Linked DNA regions of Homo sapiens: region 1 is linked to region 2. The links come from fine-mapping of genetic effects on gene expression. A gene starts in region 2. The other region holds a variant in brackets. All regions are shown on one strand. Distances are between the middles of the regions. Region 1 has its middle 47 kb from the start of PYHIN1. Region 2 holds the start of MNDA (myeloid cell nuclear differentiation antigen).

Region 1 (4,405 bases), 53 kb before region 2:
CATTCTTCTAAATTTTTTTCAAAGTTTTCAACTTTTTTGCCTTTGGTTTGAATGTCCTCCCGTAGCTCAGAGTAATTTGATCGTCTGAAGCCTTCTTTTCTCAGCTCGTCAAAGTCATTCTCCATCCAGCTTTGTTCCGTTGCTGGTGAGGAACTGCTATCCTTTGGAGGAGGAGAGGCACTCTGCTTTTTAGAGTTTCCAGTTTTTCTGTTCTGTTTTTTCCCCATCTTTGTGGTTTTATCTACTTTTGGTCTTTGATGATGGTGATGTACAGATGGGTTTTTGGTGTGGATGTCCTTTCTGTTTATTAGTTTTCCTTCTAACAGACAGGACCCTCAGCTGCAGGTCTGTTGGAATACCCTGCCTTGTGAGGTGTCAGTGTGCCCCTGCTGGGGGTGCCTCCCAGTTAGGCTGCTCAGGGGTCAGGTGTCAGGGAACCACTTGAGGAGGCAGTCTGCCTGTTCTCAGATCTCCAGCTGGGTGCTGGGAGAACCACTGCTCTCTTCAAAGCTGTCAGACAGGGACATTTAAGTCTGCAGAGGTTACTGCTGTCTTTTTGTCTGTGCCCTGCCCCCAGAGGTGGAGCCTACAGAGGCAGGCAGGCCTCCTTGAGCTGTGGTGGGCTCCACCCAGTTGGAGCTTCCCAGCTGCTTTGTTTACCTAAGCAAGCCTGGGCAATGGCGGGTGCCCCTCCCCCAGCCTCACTGCCACCTTGCAGTTTGATCTCAGACTGCTGTGCTCACAATCAGCGAGACTCCGTGGGCGTAGGACCCTCCGAGCCAGGTGCGGGATATAATCTCATGGTGCGCCATTTTTTAAACCGGTCGGAAAAGCACAGTATTTGGGTGGGAGTGACCCGATTTTCCAGGTGCGTCCGTCACCCCTTTCTTTGACTCGGAAAGGGAACTCCCTGACCCCTTGTGCTTCCCAAGTGAGGCAATGCCTTGCCCTGCTTCGGCTTGCACACGGAGCACACACCCACTGACCTGCGCCCACTGTCTGGCACTCCCTAGTGAGATGAACCCGGTATCTCAGATGGAAATGCAGAAATCACCCGTCTTCTGCGTCGCTCATGCTGGGAGCTGTAGACCCGATCTGTTCCTATTCGGCCATCTTGGCTCCTCCTCCTCGGCTACATTATTCTTTTACTCCAATCTCAATGGTCATTGCTTCTCTCTCAGCAATCTCCTTTGACGTATTACCATCTTTTGAGTCTGCTTGCTCCCAGCTGTGGTCTGGAGTCTGAATAGAGATATGCTCTCATGCCCATTATGGGTACATTTAAACAGAGCAGGAGTTAAACAAAGGCAGTAAGGCAGTACCACAGGTGACAGGGAATAGCTTATTTACTCAGTGCAAAACATTCAGGGAAGATTTTAATTAGGCAGAATGTTGGCAGGAGGATATTAGGTAAGGTTTTTCACAGTACAACTATGGTTGTTTCAATTGAAATGAAAGGATTATTGAATTAGGGAATCTGAGATGTGGAACGATTTACGTGCATATATATGTCTGTGTGCCTGATTATGTCACTATTTCCATTTTAATCATTTGTACTTAAATTTAACTTTGGTTAGTGTTATCAAGGCTCCTATTGTGAACCTTTGTGCTTGTCGTTAGTGTGCTTTTGGAGAATGAGATATTTAGTATGATGTTATGGAGAGCCAGCCATGTTTTCTTCTGTGAATCAGCAATTGCCTTTCACTAAAGTATAGCAATTTTTGGTCTAAGATGAAGTTATTCCAAGACTTCCTTGTTTATTTGAGTCTGACATGAGCTGTGTTGACCCTCTTCCTTGTTAAACTTATTTTTGATGCATATTATACATATTTCCACTTTATCTTTGACCTCTCTGTGTACATAGTTTCATCCTCATTTGTAGCATCCTTTACTTGTAGTCACCCCCAAATATATATCCAACTTTTCTATGGCTCCACCTATGGCAGTTTGATCTTCTCATTCACCTTGCTTAAGAATCTGCATTCTAAATCTACACAGCCTGGGCTGGAATGTCAGTTCCACCACTAACTGGTTGTTTCAATTGGTGTGTATTGCTTACATTTTCTGAGCATCGGTATCTTTATCTATGATATGGGAATAATTATTATAGCTTCATTATTGTCTCACTTCCCCAAACATAGTGAGTGCTCAGTTTTCTATTAGTATAAATGTAGAATTATACAATTATTTTAGATAATATCATCTAAACCCATAATTTTAACATGTATCTCTAAATGTACAAATGCATAACTCGCCAGTACAAAATTACTTTTTTTGTTCCAGATCTGTTTATACAGATCTATATATCTTCAGATTGATAGAGAGATATTTCTTAGATATCCAACAGGTAGCTCAAAGTCAACTTGTCCAAACAACATGTTTTCACTTCCTAGACTGTGCTGTTCTCTGCTTTCTT[G/T]ATGTTAGTGAACAGTAGCACCATTTATACAGTTGCCTGGATAATATTCTTGAATCATCTTTGAATGCTCCTTAAATCTTTTATCTTTCTCAACATCATCACTTAATTAGTCACACAATCATGAGGATATAGCTTCAAAAAATATTTTACTCCATTCATCACAGCCCTGTTTGTCTTTCTCCTTCTTAAATAGAAATCTGAAGAAACCTTTCGTGGTGTCCTGGTAAACTAGCTGCCCAATTTTAGAAAATATCTATTTGTAGCCTTTGCATATTTTGCTGGCCTAAATATTTCCACTATGCTAGTTTCAAACTTCCAAAGATTTTACAAACAGTTCATAAAATCCCCAAATACTTAGCAATAAGTGTTCTGGTGAGAGCTGACTTGGGCACATCATTGCTTCTAATTGATATCTCTGCTCTAACCTAATGCCTCTCTAATGCATACTTCTAGAATTGTTACCATAATACCTTTTTTTTTTTTTTTTGCTAAAGTGTCAATGTGATCAGACATTCTTCTGCATAAAATCTTTAGGTTTTATCTGTTTTTCACAATGAATTTTCTGTTTCTTTATTTCTGACAAACAGCTATACTCTACCACCTGCCCCCGCCCCCAATTTTTATTCTGTGCTGCATCTTTCCATAGTTTCTTCATAGAAACTCTTTATAGAATTTTAGTTGTACAGAACTCACAGTGCAGTTTCACACTTTAGAGCATTTGCGTGTGTCATTTTCATTGCTTAGATCCCCTTCCAATATCTTTGCCGTGATAGGAAAAGTAGTGCTTACCATAGATTAATTTCTCATGATGTACTAGGCAGTGAGATATGTTATATAAATTTTACATATATGTAAACTTATATGCATAAATACGCATTGTCTCACTTAATATTTTAACCATGCTGATGAAGTGGAGACTTCCATTATTTTAGAGGATCAGTGAAACTATTTCCCCAATATCAATCAACTAATGAGTGTTGAATTCAGGATTCAAATCAGATTTGTCTTATTCATAACCCTTTCTCTTGAACACTATATGAAATTACTTCCCTGTCATCCTAATTTCTTTAAATACTTTATTACTTAGCACAAGTATTATAATCCTTTTGAATATTCCTTTGAAGCTTATAAGAATACTATTTCCTTAATATCATTAAAAACTCTTCTACGTAGAAATGAGTGCAAGGACATTGTTTGGATTTTCCTCCCACCTGCTGGACTGTCTGAGTAACAGGATAGGAATCTAGTGTTCCTGAAGCCTAAACAAAATCATTTACTTCTTTGGCAAACTAATGTTCCTCTATCCAGTTCCCACCTTGATAAAAATGTGAATTCTACAAATCAATTTTAGCTTGTAGTCAATTGTTCTTAGATGAAAGCAGAATAATCAAAACTTATCTCCTTCCTCACACTTGATATTGTGCCATTTTTCATTCCTGACTACATCCATGGTTCCTGTATTGTAGTATCTTACACACAGAAGCTATTATTCATCAATTGTATAATTCCATTTATATGCGAGATCTCTTATAGAGTGTGTAGGAAAATCTGGAGGTAAATTTAAGGGGCTAACTTAGAAGATATGTATGTAGGGTTACAAAGCAGTCAATCATGTGAAATGTTAGTTGAATTCATAGCAGTTTGTAATTTTTTTGAGGACTGTTAGGGAGGAATTGAATGTGTCATGCTGTCACCTTGAATTTGGACATGGACATATCAGTAAAACTGTGCCTTTTAATTATTATTATTATTATTACTTTGTAAATGAGAGGATTCGATTACCTTATCTTCTAAGTATCATGGAATTCAAAATTTTTATTCAATACTATCTTCATAAATAAATAAGTAAATAAGACAGAAGGGAGACAGCACAAATGTTTAGATCATATGCATAGCTGCTGAAAGTATTTGCACTTAGGAGAAAGTTAGCCAATCCATTTATTATACTTATTGCACGTCACAACTAGAATTCAACCTTGGTAGTACAAT
Region 2 (4,405 bases):
GAAAGTGTGATCTCAAATAAATGCATGTACATATATGTTCATTGCAGCATTAATCACAACAGAAAAATGTGAAAGTATTACAAGTGTCCTTCAATGGATGAATGAATAAAAAGAAATATGGTTTCTTACGTATTTTATGGTAAATACATGAAATGGAATATTATTCTACCCTAGGAAGAAAGAATATTCTGACACATGATACAATACAACATGAATGAACTTTGAGAACATGAAATGAAAAAAGCCAGTCACAAAAAGCACACGCTTACTGTATGATTAAACATATATGAAGAGTTAGAGTTTTTAAATTTATGGGGAAAGAAGGTAGAATGATGTTTGCCAAGCTCTGGAGGAAAGGGGAATGGTGAAATTGTTGGTTAACGGTTAGAGTTTTAGTTTTGCAAGATGCAAAGGCGTTCTGGAGGTTGGTTGCACAACAATATGAATGTATTTAATACTACTGAACTGTACACTTGAAGCTGATTAAGATGACACATTTTATGTTACATGTTTCTTAACACAATTAAAAGAAAACAATTATTATATTCAAAGCTTTCAGAAGCTTGGCAGTGAAAATATCCATACCCACAGCTCTTTGTGAAGAACTACTCATTATGAAAAGAAATAAATCTAAGAAATGTTGGAGGCCAAAAGGGAAGAAAGATCAAGCAAATACTTTAATTAGTGTTTTTACTATCTTAAAAATAAGTAAAGCCAGAGTCAAATAAAAGAAAACAGGAACTATATGAACATACTCTTAACAGGTGAAGTTGTATGTTTGGGGGACCAGAAGATGTGAGAGTTTGCTAAGGGGCTTGTCTTTAAGGAGAATATAGATTTTTTAAAAATAAGAAACTTGACAAGAAAGGAGAAGAAGAAAGCACAGAATAAGTGCTATAAATTGAAACAAAGTAAGATGGCAAAACCAAGTTAAAATATATACCTTTATAGAATTTGCATATCTGGACTAAACTCATCAACTAGGAGGAAAAATTTTCAATTTGGATTAAAAATAAATCCAGTCATATGTTGTTGACAAAGTACAAATAAAGCATAAGTTCACTTAAGTTTGAGAAAGAGCTGGAAAAGTTATATTCTTCAAACTCTAACTTAAAGAAAGACTTTTTAGGAAAAATAGTGTAGCTTAAAATAGGCTTAAGTCAATAAGTATCAGTACATAGTTTCACTACATAATGGTAAAGTATGCAACTTGGAAAAAGATATAATAATTTAAATTATATTATAAATATAATCTGTTATTACTTTATAAAGTAGCATATAGAAGTTTTTTCTTCTCTCTAAACACACACATAACATATATACTTAGATATACATATTCTATGTAAAAATATATGGTAGAAATCAAAAGAACTACAATGAGAAATTAACAAAATCACTATTAGAGTTGGAGATTTCACCACATCTCTCAGTTACTGAAAGAACAAGGTAAAAAATAGCTTAGATTTAGATTTAGATTTTTCAAACATAATTAACAAGCTTACTTAAGAAACTTTATCTTACTTAAATAGAATTTGGAATCCAACGTTTATAAACTCTTCTCAAGTACTCATGGAGTAATTAGAAAACATTCATATGTACAAAGCCATAAAAAAGTCAAAATGTATCCCAAAGTAGGAAATATATAATTGATTCTCCCTGTCTTTTCATTATACCTTGCCACAAAAAATGTTATCTATGACTGAGTAAAGCATAGACCATTTGAAAAAGAGAATTATTTCTTCTTACACTTGTTGTAAAATGAAGCATAAAATGAAACTGATTCATGAAAATGTAAAGATTATTTTTGAGTAAATGCTTGTAAAATTGAGAAATTAATGTGTGCACATGTCTATGCTTTTTAAAATAGAGATAAAATCATATAATAGAGATTTATATCCTGGTTTATTTTTTACTAAATATTACTTCATAATAATTTTCTTATCTGACTGTCTTGTCTTTTAACTTAGGCCCAAACCCAGTCACCAAGTCATCCTCCAGCCAAGAAAACCAAGTATCTCCTCTAAATATCAATTTATGCCAAAAGACACCCAAGAATTAATTTTTAAAACCTGCTGTAGACAAAATACATTTTTTTGGTTCATACCCCAATTGTGGTAGAATAAAAGATATCCATTTGCTACCTAGACAGTTAAAGCATTCAGTTCTCAGTTTTCTGAATATGATTGATAACAACACTTCTGGTCTCAGGCAATTATTCTCTACTGAGATGGTGTGGTTACCAACTAGATACCTAGATCTTTCTCTAAAGAACTTCCCAGAAATCTCACCTTAATGGATGCTTCTTCCACAATAGTCTTCAGAAATCCTGGAGTCACTGTCTTGTTTAGGACAGAATCACTGTCCGTAAAGCTTTGGAGAGATTAAACTGCAGACTATTTTAATCTTGTAAAGGGCTGAGAAATGAAAGCTAACAAGGAAAAATGGCACTTGTTAGAGCCACTCTCAATCTTGATTGTAGATGGCCTTCTTACACTGTCCTAATTCCTAACTAGAAAGAAGTTATGTAATCATGAAACAATTTTGAAGCCACGCCTATCAGCCTTTGTAGCTTTCTATTTCAGATGTCAGAGAAAGTGGTCAGTTCCTCTTTGTAGTAAGTAATCTCAGTCACAAGGAGAAATGACAGTAAATGGTGCCTCTTCTTCGCTTTTTTGACTTACAAATACTTGCTGAAAGGAGTTTCAAACTCAGAACTTTCTTATAAAGCTAACTTACATATAGGTCATTAGAAACCGGTAGCCGCTTGAATAAGGATCTTAATATAAATTGGGAAAGGCAAAACACCAAAGTTTCTCCCTCCTTTCCTGTTCACAGAGTGGCAGGAGCAGGAGATCTTGGTAGAGATGTCTATTGCTACCAGAACTTGACTTCATCTCTTGGATAGGGGTGGGTCTACTGTGAAATTGTTTTTGTTTAAATAGTACCTACATATTCACCCAGTTATTAATAACTGATACACCTGGAGCTTGACAGAGGCAGAAAGTCATTATGAATATGTAAATCCTTATTCAAATAATTTGAAAGAGTTTCATACTAGTTGCTCTCTTGAGTATAATAACTGAGCTGCCTTACCTTGATTATTAAATTCATGATTACTCATGCTTTTTGCATTATTTATGGATAGTTGGTTCATATCATGACTGAAACCTTGAACATTCTGGAACAGCACTGAAACTCTGGAATGATAGGGGGCCTGATAAACCCTTTGTACTGCAATTTTTTTTTCCTGTGAAGAACAGTGGGTGCACTACAAAGTATCATAACTCTGAATTGTCAAATGAATGGTATCAGTTAGCAGACAGTGCTGTGGTTACCAACTAGCTGATCTGTAAGCAAAATGTGGTCATGACTGGAAAAGGATCCCAAAACAGCTAATAGGGGAAAATGATCCAAGGCCATCTACAGAGAAGAATAAAGCTGATTGTCTTAATCCAAACCAGCAGCATAGAGAGAGTTAAAGTTTGGATTTGGAAACTGTCTAAACCCCACTAAAGCAGGGTAAATCAGAAAAAACCAAGAGGATCTAGAATGACAGCCACTAACACATGTGGGTGTTCATTGTTTCAGTTTCTCTCTTATGCTGATGCTTCGAGCAGGTCTTAAGGTAAAGGGTAAAGAGGAACACAAGGAAACCTTATCAGGTGCCCCACTTCAGTGTTTGGGAACCAAAAGAGCTCACGACAGGAGTTACCATGTTTCAGGACAGCTTTCTGCCCTGATATGGTTTGGCTCTGTGTTCCCACCCAAATCCCATCTTGTAGCTCCCATAATTCCCACGTGTTGTGGAAGGGACCTGGTGGAAGATGAATGAATTATGGGGGCAGATCTTTCCCATGCTGTTCTCATGATAGTAAATGGGTCTCATGAGATCTGATCGTTTTAAAATAGTTTTTAAAAAATGGGAGTTGCCCTGAGCAAGCTCTCTCTTTGCCTGCTGCCATCTACGTAAGATGTGACTTGCTCCTCCTTGCCTTCCACCATGATTGTGAGGCTTCCCCAGCCATGTGGAACATTAAGTCCAATAAGATTCTTTCTTTTGTAAAATGCCCAGTCTTGGGTATGTCTTTATCAACAGCATGAAAACAGACTAATAAAGTAAATTGGTACCAGGAGTAGGGCATTGCTGAAAAGATACCAGAAAATGTGGAAGCAACTTTAAAACTGGGTAACAGGTAGCAGGTAACAGTTTGGAAGGCTCAGAAGAAGACAAGAAAATGTGGGAATGTTTGGAACTTCCTAGAGACTTGTTGAATGGCTTTGACAAAAATGCTGATAGTGACAGAAACAATAAGATCCAGGCTGTGGTGGTCTCAGATGGAGATGAGGGACTTGTTGGGAACTGGAGCAAAGGTGACTCTTGTTATGTTTTGGCAAGGAGACTGGC

The links. PIP is the estimated chance that this variant, and not a neighbour inherited with it, causes the effect. A credible set is the group of variants that fine-mapping cannot tell apart.
Region 1: its variant is the best candidate, but not a certain one, in a credible set for the expression of MNDA in blood mononuclear cells (TOPMed, PIP 0.87).

What each region holds. Positions count from the first base shown.
Region 1 is chr1:158,882,827-158,887,231 of GRCh38, reverse strand. No RefSeq gene overlaps it. Among named protein-coding and RNA genes, the nearest start is that of PYHIN1, 47 kb to the left of the region's middle. RefSeq lists an enhancer at 306-805. The variant G/T (reference allele first, on the strand shown) is at 2,417.
Region 2 is chr1:158,829,441-158,833,845 of GRCh38, reverse strand. MNDA (myeloid cell nuclear differentiation antigen) reads right to left here and starts at 2,495. Exons shown (of 7, transcript NM_002432.3): 1 at 2,289-2,495. It also overlaps a transcript of OR6N1 not described here.